Homo sapiens: one gene and its partner. The protein of the gene in region 2 purifies or fractionates together with the protein of the main gene of each other region. This does not show direct contact. Each region holds a gene or a part of one and is shown on either strand. Other genes may lie near its edges.

Evidence for each region.
Region 1: the proteins of ABHD12B (region 2) and CD58 purify together in Homo sapiens (affinity purification with mass spectrometry; 3 studies listed by BioGRID and IntAct, with this or other methods). This does not show direct contact.

The regions. Positions count from the first base shown.
Region 1 is NC_000001.11:116,513,205-116,519,741, forward strand, and holds the end of CD58 (lymphocyte function-associated antigen 3), read right to left. Parts: intron 6,099-6,537; exon of another isoform or gene 6,064-6,098; coding exon 6,027-6,063; coding exon of another isoform or gene 6,023-6,026; exon of another isoform or gene 5,496-6,022; intron 1,619-5,495; coding exon 1,609-1,618; 3' UTR 1,330-1,608; downstream 1-1,329. UniProt on the Homo sapiens protein: Ligand of the T-lymphocyte CD2 glycoprotein.
Region 2 is NC_000014.9:50,874,338-50,882,881, reverse strand, and holds part of ABHD12B (protein ABHD12B), read right to left. Parts: intron 4,931-8,544; coding exon 4,803-4,930; intron 4,138-4,802; coding exon 4,035-4,137; intron 2,431-4,034; coding exon 2,311-2,430; intron 1,287-2,310; coding exon 1,256-1,286; intron 1-1,255.

The sequences.
Region 1 (6,537 bases), on a different chromosome or scaffold from region 2:
TAACCAGAACAAGGGATGTCAGGTGGTGATGATTAGCTGGCATGAGCATCAAAGCCGAGGAAGGAGCACTGGTCTGCAGGCAGAGAAGAGCAAGGAGGACGTCTTCTTTCCCCTAGGCCCTGAATACAAGGGATGCAGGAAAGAACACAGCTACCCCTTGAGAGGCTGTGGGAGGCAGCATCCCCAGGGAGAGCTGGGTTTCGATTAGAACAGCGAAGCAAAGGAGGCATTCACAGAAGAGGACATCAGGGATGTCGCTGCTGATGGATGGGGGCAGAAAGTGGGGCATTACAGAGCTGCATGGGACAGAAGTCTCCAGGGGAGTCATGGGCTTCCTACAGGGTCTGGGATAAAGGGTTTGACAAGATTAGTCTGAGACAGGATAGGAATCCATGCCACATGGAGATGGGGGGAGCTGGGGAGATGTGGGTCTTCCCAGAAGCACTCTGGGCTCCTTTCCCACTCTTGCTGAGGCCTGTGGGAGCTCAGATGCAGGCTGTTCTAGAGAGAACACATGTAGCCTGAGGGGTTTTTTTTGAGATGGAGTCTCGCTCTGTCCCCCAGGCTGGAGTGCAGTGGCCTGATCTTGGCTCACTGCAAGCGCCGCCTCCTGGGTTCACGCCATTCTCCTGCCTCAGCCTCCCGAGTACCTGGGACTACAGGAGCCCGCCACCACACCTGGCTAACTTTTTTTATTTTTAGTAGAGATGGGGTTTCATTGTGTTAGCCAGGATGGTCTCGATCTCCTGACCTTGTGATCCACCCACCTTGACAGGCCCATCTTGGAGTCAAGAAATATTGATTTCTTCCTTCAGCCTGGAGACTCTCATGTGACAGGAATTCCAGGGACAGTGCAGGCACAAGCTAAAGCGTCTATGTATTGACTTGGGTTTACATGGCTGCCAGAGGCAACTGGCACCGTCCACCACTTCAGGAGTGGCTGCCACTCTGTATTTGTTATGACTACGGTTTTCCAGCTACTGTCTGCTGTTGACCTCCCAATGTGACAGCTAACCAATGCAACAAACTAAGTAGGCTAATTAATGGCAGCGAGAGAAGTCTCCCTGCCCCACCTGTGTTATACAACTGCACTGGATGGTGGTGATCTGCTCTTTTCAAAAGCAGCTAGAAGTAAAGACCCATGTGTTCACTTGCCTCGTACTGACAGCAGTGGAACCCAGTGAGGGACAGTACTTTTCTCCCTCACTCCATGAATGACCCTACAATGAATTATTTTTCCCCTAAAGCAAGGGAGAAAGAGTATAGATTTTAAAAGGGTATGTGACCCTTATTTTTCTATCTTAGGAAAACAGTAGCCAAACCACCTAGTCACTTGTGTACATATTTACATTTATTTACAAAAGTATCTACATCATCAGTAAAAACAATTTACTGACAAAAAAAGCAAGCACCTAGTCATATAATAAGTTGATGACAGCCAAAACTAATGCTTGTTCTTTGTTAGTGGGTATTTCTTCTTAAAGCAGCTGCTTCAAGTTACATTTCCAACAGTTGTTCAAAAATTGTAATACTCAAATGAGAAATCAGATGGCTTTTTAGTTTTTAAAATAATTTAGTTATGCTGTTGTCTTCATCTTCTGTTACCAATCAATTGGAGCTACAAAAAAAAATCATATTATTAACTTGTAAAATGCAGTAAATCTGGGCTGCAGACCAGGAGTCTTAATTACCCTCCTATTCTAAAGTGAATAGCCCTTTTGTAATAAACTCATCAAAGCCAAGGGAGCTAGGGAGCAGGGATGGAGGAAGAACTGCCTTGAGTGCTCTTGGGATAGTAGTCTGAGTAACACTTGAAGAACAGCCTTCAGGATGCTGCACTCAATAGCAGCCCCAAGGCTCCTCCCGCTTACTCTCTGAGTATAACTGAAAGATTGAACAACAGAGCTGAGACTGTTAGACCCACATGTAAACTGTCACCCATTTGTAACAGCTACTTCCTTCTTTGCTACATGAAACTCCTGGGGATGGTTTTCTTCCTACCTCAAACTTACCTTCCTGTTTAGTCACCTCTGTGGCAACGACAGAACAATCTCTGGCTGTCTTGGAGTAAATCAGCCGAAAAACAAAACCGCATCCTTGAGCAAGCCCTCAAACCGAGTCCATTTCCCGGCCTCCTCCCCCGTGGTCTGCGTATTTCCACAGAGCTCAAAATCAGACCAGGCCAGAGCTCCCCAAACATTTGTATCTCATTGGTAACAAGAATTCATGAGAAATTAGTGCTGTGGTCACAGGGGTGAGGTAAAGGACAGCAAACTAGAAGTTTCCCTCCTTGGGAGCCTCACAGAACATGAAATGGGTGCTGTGACTTTCTGAGGGGGATAAAGTGGGAAATGTTTGTAAACCAGGTTGGCAGGCACAGGATTCTTGTTGGGGCAGCTTTTTGCCGGTCTCTGCTTCCCTGCCCTCTCCCAGCAGTCTCCTCACCCACTACAAGGAATCAAGCCTGCTTCTCCAGCTTGGCTCCTGCCTGAGATCCCACCTGTAAATCTTTCTTCTCGGAGAAATAGGACTCCCTGCTTCCTTTTTAATTTGGCTAACTTTGTGATCTGTTTTCTAGACACTTACACAAAAAATACCAGGGCACTCAGAAATTGCCTACGTTGAACTGCCTGGGTGAGAAGTGTGGCGTGGCCATTTCCCGTCAGATGTCTGCTATCTACTCATCTGTCCTCTGTTGTTCCTAATTGGGTTTAGTTCTTCCTGCTCCTGCCCTCGCGCAGCTGGGGAAATATTGCATTTGTTCCTACTTATGCTTGCCCCTTTCTCATCTCCTCCCCCGATCTCCTCCATCTCCACCATATACAGAACCTTTTAACATTTTAATTTAACTTAATTTTTTTGATGCCCAGGCTGGTCTCTTAACTCCTGGGCTCAAGAAATCCTCCCACTAACTCCTAAACTCAAGCGATCCTCGCACCTCAGCCTCCCAAGTAGCTGAGACTACAGGTGTGTGCTACCATACCCAGCTTCATAACCCTTTAGTAACTGAGCTTAGAGAATTCCCCCTGCTGCCACAATGGGTTCTTTAAATTTAAAAATAATTATTAAATAGGCAGTAAACACACATGATGCAGAACTTGAATAGTAAATAAAAATATACCAAGAAAAGTAAGCTCCTCTCTCAATCTCAGCCCCAAATACTCAGGTCTCTCCCTAGAATGCCACCTTAGAGAGGTCAGTGTTACCTTTCTAGACTCATCATTCCAAAGCAGTGCTTTTCATGCAAAATGTTCCTGCTCAAGAACCTATAATGGCTGCTTATTTCCATATCACTCCATTCTAAGGACCTCCTTGCAAATATTCAGTGTCTTTTGCCTCTACTTCAACTCGATGCCAGGCAGGTCAATCTTACTATCAAATAAATCACAACAGATTTAATTCCCTCTCATGTATTTGCCTCCGCTGTTTATCCCACCTGGAATGCCTTTTCTACTCCACTCTTGTTCTGAAAATGTAGGTCACATCCTACCCCCTCCAAAGCTTTTCTGATTATTCTGGCCTCTCCAATTCCTCTGCGTTGGTTGCTCAGCCCTTACCCTCATATCACACATTCTGCCTATCACCTGTGCTTCCTGCCTAAGTCCTTCTAAGAGTTTCGTATGCTCATGTGCATCCATTCTCTCTCCCTGGTGTGGCCACAAGCTTCTTGTGGGAGGAGCCCTATTATATGCTTTCTCTGAATCCCACACAATGTCTAGCCTCGCTGGGTACTCTGACCCCCACCCTATCAGCTAGCACAGTGCCTGGTATCGCATAATCTCCATAACGTTTGTTGTGATGAAAGGAACAGAGGAAGGGATGAGTTCCAGAATGCCCATCCCCTTTCCCCGTGGCCCTGGATGATGCCCCCCTACCCCCATCATTGGTAGTGATGGCTATGCCTCCCCCATCCACTCAGAGTTCCCCTCCACTGTAACCACCTAGATCTCAGCAGAGACCTGACTTGGCTCTCACACTCACCTGGGGCTCACGCATATTGCTCAGATCTGAAATGCCTTCCTCTGACCACAAGCCTGGAGGTCCCTACCTCTCCCACCTCACCTCATCTCCAGCTACTTGGCTCCTCTCTGCCCAGCCTCCTGGCCCATCAACCCCTCATGGCCTTGGGTCCTCCCAGCTTGGGTCTGTGGCCGGCTGAGCTGCCCCTTGTACTTCCTTGCCCCCAGGCCTCCTGCCACAGCTTGTTTCTCCTGCACTGTTCCACCTGGCAGCTGAGGAGAAAGGACACCTGTGGCCCATCCATCGATCCCACCTCACCTAGGCCCTTGCTGCTGCTTAGCCACCCTCACTTCATCCCTGCACTGACCACAGCAACCGACTCCACAAAACCAAAGGTCTTAACCCCTCGCCTACCTCCTTGTCTCTGCAGCTTTAACATGTAGCCTCCTCCCTCGAGTCTCTAACCCGGGGCTACCCTGGCTCTGATCCTGGACTTTGCTTCCCCAGTCCCGCCTCCTCTGCCTCTTCCCATCACCCTAGGGCATCTAGCTTTTCTTTCTTAGTGACCTCAGGTGCTCACGGCATCAATTACTGTCCAGATGAAGAGGCGCCCCAATCCGTAACTCTAGCGTGAAGCCCACGCTCCAATTCTGTGCATGGACATCACTAGCCAGGTAATACACCAGCACCCCAAAATCAACCTGTCAAAGCAAAAATTCATAATTTTCCTTCCCAACCAAGATTCCTGTGTGACTCCTCTGTGACACTTGGTCCTGTCGCTTTTATTTTTCTTGAAAAATAATAGTAACAATAGTCATAATGGCTAACATTTATTGAAAACTATTATGAGCCAGCCACTATTGTAAGCATTGTACTTATATTAATATATTTTGACACAGTTATTTCTATGTGATTATCTATGCTATCATTGTCATTTCTATATTATCATTATGCCCATTTTCCACAGAAGACAACCAAAGCACAGAGAGTTTAAGTGACTTGTCCAAGGCCTGTGAGAAATGGAGCTGGCATTTGAACCAGGGAGTTTGGCATCAGAGCCTACACTGCCAGATGAAAGTTTTGCTAACAGGACCTCTGCTGTTTCTCTCAAACCTAGCTCTGCATATTCAGTTCTGCCACCATCACCTTGACTCAGGCCCTCTTCTCTGCTTGGCTGGATTATTTCATTACTCCACTAACCAGTGTCCTCATCTCATCTCCTATTAATTAGTCCCATGCTTTGCCAGCAGAGTGATCTTACTAAAGCATAGTTCTGCTAGAAAACTCTGCGGTTCTCCCTAAAGAATGACCCAAAGCCTCTCTCAAAGTCTCAGCCTGGCCCAACCTGCCAGCCCAGCCCCATCTTTCTCTAATGCCTCAACACTCTCTGCTCCAAAGAGGATGGCTTGCTACTTCTTGTCCTGCCCTTCACACCCTGGGCCTTAACTCTTCCCCTCATCCCTCAACACCCAGCTCATGCCTCTGCCTCCTGACCACCAGTGGGATCTGCCAGGAGGGGGCCTCTTGGAGCACCCTACGGCGGTTTATTAAACCAACACTGCTGCTAATTGTGTTTGTGTCCTATCTTTTATATGTGACTACAGGCCCAGCTCTGACCCTGGCTCCTGAAGTGAACCCTATCCCTGATCCAACTTTTTCTGGGATGGGAGGTGGAGGGAGTGTATTGTAGTGGTTAACAGTATAACTCTTGGAGTCCAAAGACCTAGATTTAAATCCCAGCCCATCACTTACTAGCAACGTGACTTTGATATCTCACTTGACTTCTATGAATCTCATATGCGCTGTCTCTAAGCAAGGGGTATGATACTCCTCCTGCAAGGCTCATTGAGAGGGTTCCAGGAAACGATATGCAGAGAGTGGCTAGTGCAGTGCATGGCACACAGTTGGTACTTAATACACTATGGTTAGTATATCTGCTGATGTTACTTCTTATTACTGTACAAGGCAACCAACAGATGAGTACAATCTGGCTTCCCAAGTAATGGGCATCTACAGCAGGGCTGCTGTTGTTCTGGCACAGAGTGCACAGCCTGCAGTGTACTTACTTGGTTCTGTCTGGTTTTCTGTCACATTTCAGAATACCTAAAAATGAAGAAATTGTCTTCTCAATTAAAGAACTGAAAAGAAAAGGTGAAATGTGGAGTTACTGACTGCCTATTAGAGGCCTAAATATGGAAAACTAAGCCAGAGCCCCATCACCCTGGGATTTCCTGCTATCCTATATGCTTTAAATCAAATCGGCTACAGAGCTGGTCCAAAGAGTTGTTCAAAAATTGGTCAGAACATGATAGAAAACCAAATGCAAAAACTGTTGACAAAATGGCTAATTTTACCTCGTGCATAAGGCTGAAGATGCAGGGAAGGCTAGAATAGTTTGGACCAGTGCTGTCCAATAGAAATATAATGCAAGCCACATAAGTAATTTAAAATTTTTGGTATCCACATTACAAAGTAAAAAAAAATGTAAATTTTAATATTTTATTTAACACAATGTGTCACAAATATAAAATTATTTCAACATGTACTCAATATAAACATTTTTTAATGAGATATTTT
Region 2 (8,544 bases):
CTCTCACCTCAGCCTCCTGAGTAGCTGGAATTGCAGGCAAGTACCACCACATCCAGCTAATTTTAAAATTATTTGTAGAGACAGGGTCTCATTAAGTTGAGACCCTGGTCTTGAACTCCAGGTCTCAGCCTTCCAAAGTGTTGGTACTGCAAGCGTGAACCACTGCACCCAGCCTTGAATGCCTTTTAAAAGCAGACATTCTGGGTGGGCGCGGTGGCTCATGCCTGTAATCCCAGCACTCTGGGAGGCCAAGGTAGGCGGATCACGAGGTCAGGAGATCGAGACCATCCTGGCTAACACGGTGAAACCCTGTCTCTACTAAAAATACAAAAACAAAATTAGCCGGGCGTGGTGGCAGGTGCCTGTAATCCCAGCTACTTGGGAGGCTGAGGCAGAAGAATGGCATGAACCCAGGAGGCGGAGTTTGCAGTGAGCCGAGATAGCACCACTGCACTCCAGCCTGGGCAACAGAGCGAGACTCCGTCTCAAAAAAAAAAAAAAAAAAAAAGCAGACATTCTGTGTCTTTAGCCTATAACCACTAGAAATTAAAAAGGTTGATTCTTTTAAAAGGAGTGACCATTTTGCACCTTAATAATACTCTCTCAACCCATCCCCCAGCCCTCAGAGAAAGCAAATAAAAACGTCAGCCGGGTGAGGTGGTTCGCGCCTGTAATCCCAGCACTTTGGGAGGCGGAGGTGGGTGGATCACCTGAGATCACGAGTTCAAGACCAGCCTGGCCAACATGGTGAAACCCTGTCTCTACTAAAAAATACAAAATTAGCCGGGCGTGGTGGTTGGTGCCTGTAATCCCAGCTACTCGGGAGGCTGAGGCAGGAGAATCGCTTGAGCCTGGGAGGTGAAGGTTGCAGTAAGTGGAGATCATGCCACTGCACTCCAGCCTGGGCAACAGAATCTCAAAAAACAACAACCACAACAACGACAACAAAAAAAACCTCTCTCAACCCATCCCCCAGCCCTCAGAGAAAGCAAATAAAAATGTCTTCACCTCCATTTGGCAATGAGGTTATTAAGTTCACGAAGGTACTTTGGGACCTAGAGAAGCTCGGTTCTGTTTTGATCAGTGTAGGAGCAGAAGTCCACCGGTGGGACTTTGAGCCCCAGACACCACAACCCACCCTGACCAGTACCCTGGAGACCTCTCAAAAAACAACCACGCGGAGGGCCTGAGGAAAATCTTATGACATATCAAACAGACTTATGAAATGGGTGCTTTGAGGCCTCTTCAGACATACCTTTACCAGCTTCAGTCTGTGCGAAGCTGCCCTGTGAAGGAAGTTTAAAAAAAAAAAAAAAAAGCAAGAATTAGGAACGATGATAACAAATTCAATAAAAATCACTCTCGTGCTGCTGGTATCTGATCTCACGCCTTTCTCTTTCAGGTTGGAGGAATAAATAACTAGGAGAAGGGGAAATGTAAAAAAAAAAAAAATGCTGGGTTTCACAGGAAATTTCAGCAAATGTGGCTCTAAAATGGACACATCAAAAAAGCCCCTTGAGAAAAGGCGAGTCTTGAGAAAGGCGAGTCACCTGCCAGAAAAAGACAGGGAGGAAGGGAGTCACAGGCAGGTGCTCCTCCCAAGATGGTGGAGATCTGTGTGTTTCTGAGGCACATCGCCCCTGCCCCAAGCTTCAGGGGCACAGTCACAGCCGATGATCGTCACCCAACATAATCATACAGGCCCAAAAAGGCTCTGACAGCACATCGAAGGGGAGCCAGACTCCTGGGAGACGTTCTTTGTTACAGAGCGAGGTTGGGACTACAGAGAATGGGCTGAGGTATGAATATTCTAGAATTAGTCAGACGGTCCCCAGTACCTGTGGTCAGAATTCCGTGTGACCTCTCTTAAGGAGTCATATTTTCAGCTAATAACATTAAAGCTAAATAAAGGACTCTCCACTGTAGTGTTCTGAAAAATCTCTGATCTGGAAATGGCTCTTCCTTTCCCCCATAATGCGTGCCTGTTCCCTTTCCTGTCATTCATGGGTTCAATCCATCATTTCAGACACTCTTCGGGAGCAAAGGAATCATCACTTTCTTTGAAATCAACATCCAACTTTTGGAAGAGTTATTCTTTTCTCCTCAGTTAGGGATCCACATTATTCTACATATAGAATAATCTTTTTAAGTGAAGCTTATTGCCAGAACACCCTCAGATTTCAACAAAGGAGAAGAAATATGTGAAGGCATGCCTACAGAGTTAAAAACAGAGCCCTGTCCTTCATTCCCCCATGGGGCTGAAATGCTCTCAATCTCCTGAAAAAAAAATATGTAAGCAGAGCCACTGACCTGTGTTCTGCACTGCCATGAAGATAAACAATAATTGGGTTCCCATCACGAAGGGCTGCTTCATACCAGCAACAGTCCTTCCCCTTGGCATCTTCCCCCCGGCAGCTGGGGACTGTGTGCCTGAAGAGCAAGGGAGGTTTAAACAAATGTAGAAAGAGGAATTCTCCATCCTTTCCAAAGGCCGAAAGTCTCCTTATGATATATATACATATATTTTAATTTTTTATCCGACTAATATATGCACATGGCAAAAATAAAAATCTAACACCACAAAAAGTCTTATGACGAGAACCACAACTGCCCTACCCCATGTCCCCATGCACAGAGACAATGCCTTTTAACGACTTACTGTTTTCGTTCTTCTGACTTCTGCACCTGTTAATTTTCCAAGACTGCAGTTCTTAGGTACAGCCCATTGAAATTGTTTTTTTTAAAAAGGGAAACAAGTAAAAGATAATAGATGTTTACCATCTGCCATGAGTTCGGCCGAAGAGATAAGTAGGAAATAATTTAAAGAGAAACCAGTTTATGTAAGAGAAAAGAACTAAAACACTAAACTATTTTGCTCCAGAAACCAAGAAACCTTGTGATTTTAAACATCTGTGTGAGTTCCAGTTTCTCCACTTTGTTAAACCAGTGAATGCTGCAAATGCAAACACTGCCATATGACATGTCACCATGGGATGTGGAGAACTGGCTAAGGGTGACAAATCTTCTGTCCTCTCCATCACTTAAGGACAGAAAGTCTGCCATCATCCCCAGGGCCTCTGTACTCCGAATATAGGCACTGCTGCCTGCTGGATGAGCTGATCTTGATGAGATAGCTGACTCACCAAACCAAGGACCAGTGGGGCAAAAGCAAAAAATAAAAAGATTTCTAAATTCCAACACATTTGGGTGAACTGTACCCTGAAGAGTAGGAAGAAGTTATGGGTTTGTCCTAAACATTTTATGATCAAAGGTTTGAACTCAGGGAGATGAAATAGAAAACAGGTCACTGGAAACTTGGCAGCCAAGAATGAGTATTACAACTAAACAGAAGAAATGTTAAGGTTAGCATTGTAAGACAATAGACTGTTCATGACCTCATCTGACATATTTACTGAATGCCCTTTATGTGCCAAACATTGTGCTAAGCAATGAAAACCCACCAACAAAGTCTATCACCTGCTGAAGCTATAGTCTTGTAAGGAAGACAAATATTAACCAAATCATCACACAAACATTTATTTCATGACAATGGGAATAATTGTCAAAAGGGACAAGCACAGATGGCCATGACAGCACATACCTAAAACGGGCAGTGAGGAAAGGCTTTTCTGAAAATTACCAATTAAAGTAAGATCCAATAGATGAGTAGACAGTTAGCAAGGCAAGAGGGAAGGCAGGGAGCTGAGAAATAGAAGGAAGCCTTGAAGGCAGAGCATGTCCTAGGAGGACAGTGTGTCTGGAGTTAAGGGCATGAAGGCAAGGGTGGTATGGAATAAGGCAGAAGGGATGGGTGAGGCCAGAAGCCAAGGGCAACACCTAAATGTCTATACTCCAAAGCAAAATTCTTAGGAAAATCAAGCAAATCAACAGAAGAGGAAGGTGTAGGAAACAGCCTCCAGGTACCTCCAGGAGCACCGACCTCTCCGTGGGCAGGTAACACAGCACTGCTCCTCTGAGTCCTAACAGGAACACCTGCCCCATCAAGCAACCCGGTGTCCCATCCGTGCACTCACCAGATCCCTAGCATCACCCCAGGTTCAACTCTCAGGTAGAAGTTCACTGTGTGAGGAATCTTTAACTCTGGTTTCTTTAAATCCACAAGAAATGGGGCTTTGACTGGAAAGTAAAAATCATTATCAACTTCAAGAATCAAATTCCATGCCTTTTAATCACAATCAAAGAAAGGAATTAGCCTACACAGGTTAACAGGCTTCTAAGTTGCAAGCTACTACACTAAACTCCTAGCAGAGTATTTTATTTTATCAGCTAGGACTAGCCTGCAGAGGAGGGGCAAAAAACAAAAACCTAAAAGCTAGATTTTAAAATAGCATCAGTGTCATGGCTCATAATAGAGAAACAGAGTTATTCAATCCTTATCCTTGTCTCCAGCTTTTTAAAAGCAGTGGAGACCATTCCCCTAAGAAGGTAAAAAGGCCTAGAAGAAAATAATAAGTATTCTGCTACTTCGGTGAAACCTAATCATCAGCCAAAAGGCAAGAAATGTCCAGAACTACCTGCTTACCAGGAGGCAAGCAGGTAAGAACTAGAAGGACTGTGAATGGAACCCCCACCCACAAGGCCATGCATCTCTCTTTACTCCCAACAGTTTGCAAGGATTCCTGCTAGACTTCAAAGTCAATATTAAATAAGTTTCAGACCATTTCAGTCTAACCACAATTTTACAGCTGACATGTCTTTTCACTACGTCACAACTTTAAGGGTACTGAGGTCTTTATTTGGGAAAAATTATATAGGAAAATTTATGGAAGGTCCATACTTACAAAAATTAAAATAAATTAGCATGTCTATCAGAGGAAGGAAAACGTGTTCTTTTAAGGATTTACTAGTAAAGCTGTCATACAGAGCAGCAATTTTTCTTCCGAGCATTGAACAGGAGTGTGGAAAATATCTGCAAGGTATTGGGAAACACACAAGGTTTTCGAAATTAATCCATTTGTCTTGGTTTGTTTTTTTCTTTTTCTTTGTTTTTTTTTGGACAGAGTTCTGCTCTTGTTGCCCAGGCTGGAGTGCAATGGCATGTTCTCAGCTCACTGCAACCTCTGCCTCCCGGGATCAAGCAATTCTCCTGCCTGAGCCTCCCAAGTAGCTGGCATTACAGGCACCCACCACCATGCCTGGCTAATTTTTGTATTTTTAGTAGAGACAGGGTTTCACCATGTTGGCCAGGCTGGTCTCGAACTCCTGACCTCAGGTGATCCGCCCCCAAATTTCAGAGACTAACACTGGGAATTCTGGGTCAGATGGCATTTAAGCAAAATCTTTTACACAATGACAAGGAATTATCTACACGGCAGGCCAAGACTGGGACTAAGGGGAAACCAGGTAAGGAAAGTAATAGGGCAGGGCCCCAACCAGTAGCTGAAAAAGCCAGGACATGGCAGGGACAGGAAGGGAAGGGATATGTTCGCACCACAGCCAGGTTTGGTCCCTTACTGTAGCCCCATAGAAGGCTGAGGCTGGACCCCAAAGTCACCAGTAAACAGGATTCAGACAGTTTAACAGTTGCTGCAGTTTTTAATTATATCACAATTCTGCACTATATGTGTTAGCTATTCTTATCATTAGTCTCAGGCAGTGAGGGAATAATCCCTAGATCCTCTATATTCTGGACTTATCTTAGGAAGAAATGAGCCAGTGTTAGGAGACCCCACTTCTGAGATGAGATCCCTGGAAGAGATGGACCCATGAGGCACAGGGCTGGAGCCTGGTCAGGGAGTGGGATGGGCGCATGCACATCTTGCCTACGCTATTGTTCCCTGTGACACAAACCACCCAATCAGGAGCTGTCAGCACACAAGTGACGATTTGTCCATGAGGGGTCACTAAGGACACCTCTGTCTCAAGCCACCTCTCTTGTGAGGGTCTTAGAGAGGTGAGGGATACAGGAGGTCAATGTCATCACCTCCTGCTTCCAGTTTTTGCCCACATTATCCATTAAGTAAGTCCCTTTCCATGTTGTAAGAGATCATTGTTAAAACTGTTTAATATAATCAAATGGTAAGGTTGAGGGGCTGGAAAGCATTTTTGATAAATTGTCTCCCCTGCCCTGATTTCTATGCTAGACCAGAGGCATTTTTGGAAGATAATTATTACCTTTGCTTTGCAAATGAGACTGGAAAGTTAAGTAATCTTTCCAAGGTCACAAGTCAATGAATGGCAGAGCCACACATACCCAGGTCTGTCTGATCCCATAGTCTTATAATGATCTCCAGGATGTCACAGTCTTGGTGACATCCATGTAAGCAGAAATGAACCCCAGGAACAAAGCTGGCCTCTGGCAAAATTCTGCTCATAGACAATCTTGTTTTAAGATCTCCTTCTGCACCTTAGCCCTCTCAGCAGGGTCCCGTCCTTTCTTCTTTCCTCCTTCCTGCTCCTGTATTCTCAGGAGCCCTCTGATAACAAAGTCATCAAAGAAAGACCTCTAAAAAAATTAATTCCCCCTGAAGTGTTAATGACTTAAAAATCAGAGCACTTATATGTGTTTGGAAGAGGCACGAAGAGAGAAGATAATGAATCTCTGATGAATTTCCAGCAGTTCTGCAAGAAGTGGAAAAGATATGTGGGCTAAGGGTAATGGATAGATTTTTGAATACATCATACGCTGGCAATTGCCTACTCATAAAATCAGCAAGAAAGAAATGAAAATGATTGTTTCATAATACTTTAAAATAGCACCCCACCACCCCTGCCATGAAGGCGGCAGGAAGGAGAGGACATTGTTGTTCTGATTTTAGAGATAAGAAATCAAAACCCAGAGAAGCCACTTTGAGCCACAGATCAAGCCCAAATGGACAGAACTGAACCCAAGGCTGAACTGTGCCTCCTTCCAGCTGCTGGCTCCTGCTGGCTTCCTTCTAAGCTCCCCTCACTCACCTCCACCCTGCCTGTTAGTCTCCAGCTAAGCTGTCTTTTGAAGGTAGGCAGGGTAGTCTCCCGCTAAGCTATGTTTTGAAGGTCTGCTTGGGAAGCAGAGGCAGTAGAGGGAAATGTGTGTCTGTTTTTTAAGGAATAATTCATACACAGTCCTTCTCTCAAATAGCTCGAGGCACTTTTCTGAGATGCACTGCGGGAAGAGAACAGAGTGACCAGATCCTCAGAGCATCAATAATGCAAAGCAGCTTCTTTTAACTAAGGGGTTGTCAATTTGACTTCCCCTAGATCAGTAAGGGATCAAAAGTCACCAGTGGCTAATAGACCTTATTTGAGCAGAGGATGCAGTTTCAGCCCAATCCCCGCTAACGGCCAGCCACATCAAACGGCCACCTTGGTGCTTTGGTGTTCTTTCACTTGCCCTTTGATCAGCTGCAGCTGTAACCACACAGCGTCCCACAGGGGACTCAGAACCTAACTGGATGATTCTTACTGGTGAAAGCTGGTGGAGTCTGAGCTGCTACAGGGTGAATCACTCATGCTCAGAGGTTTCTGCAAACCAACTTTGGGAAGCCCAAATCTAACTACATTTACTATTTCAAATATTAAGACAGGTACCTTCAACCTGTGTGCCAATTCACTCAGTCGACATGTGTTTGTCACCAAGCACCGGGAGACATCCTCCCAACCAAATCCCCTCTTCCTTCACACCCATGGAAGTATCTCTTTTTTGTCAAAGTCTCCTGGAGAGATCATTCCATGGTGACCTCTCCTCTCTTGTCTTTCCTCCCACAAATAATAACGGGGCCTCAGCTGGCCTTGAATTGTTCTGTGATGGCTTTCCCATTATTAGCCCTGTCTTCTCCACTCTATCAGGCCACAGACAACAAGAACAACATGGCATAGAATGCTTCCTTTACATTTCCCTCTGTCTAGCCCAGGGCTGAGCTCAGTAAATATTGACGCATAGGTTGAAAATAGAAAGAGAGTGCATTTATTTTGTAAGGGAGAAGGAAGCAACATTTATTGGTAGCTTCAGAGGAAAGAGGAAGGACTTCATTTTCTTTTTTTTACTTACAATTGCAAATGAATCAATGTGTGCTCCACAGAGCAAGGATTTTGTCTGTTTTATTTACTGCTGTGTGACCAAGACTAGAATACTATCCAATAGATAATAAAGAACCAACGCTGTGGAAAGAATGAACACATTTATCAGCCTACTCCTGCACATTTTCTGAGCACTATCTAGGATTGTAATGACTTGGGGTGGAATGGGGGAAATGAGGAGGAAAATAAACCTTTGGTTTCCCCCAACTTCCTTCTGGAGCACATTTTCCATTTTTCTTTTTTTATTATTATTTTTTTTTGAGACGGAGTCTCGCTCTGTCACCCAGGCTGGAGTGCAGTGGTGCGATCTCGGCTCACTCCAACCTCCGCCTCCCAGGTTCAAGCAATTCTCCTGCCTCAGCCTCCGGAGTAGCTGGGACTACGGGCATGTGCCACCACGCCTGGCTAATTTTTTGTATTTTTAGTAGAGACAGGGTTTCACTGTGTTAGCCAGGATGGTCTCCATCTCCTGACCTCATGATCTGCCCGCCTTGGCTTCCCAAAGTGCTGGGATTACAGATG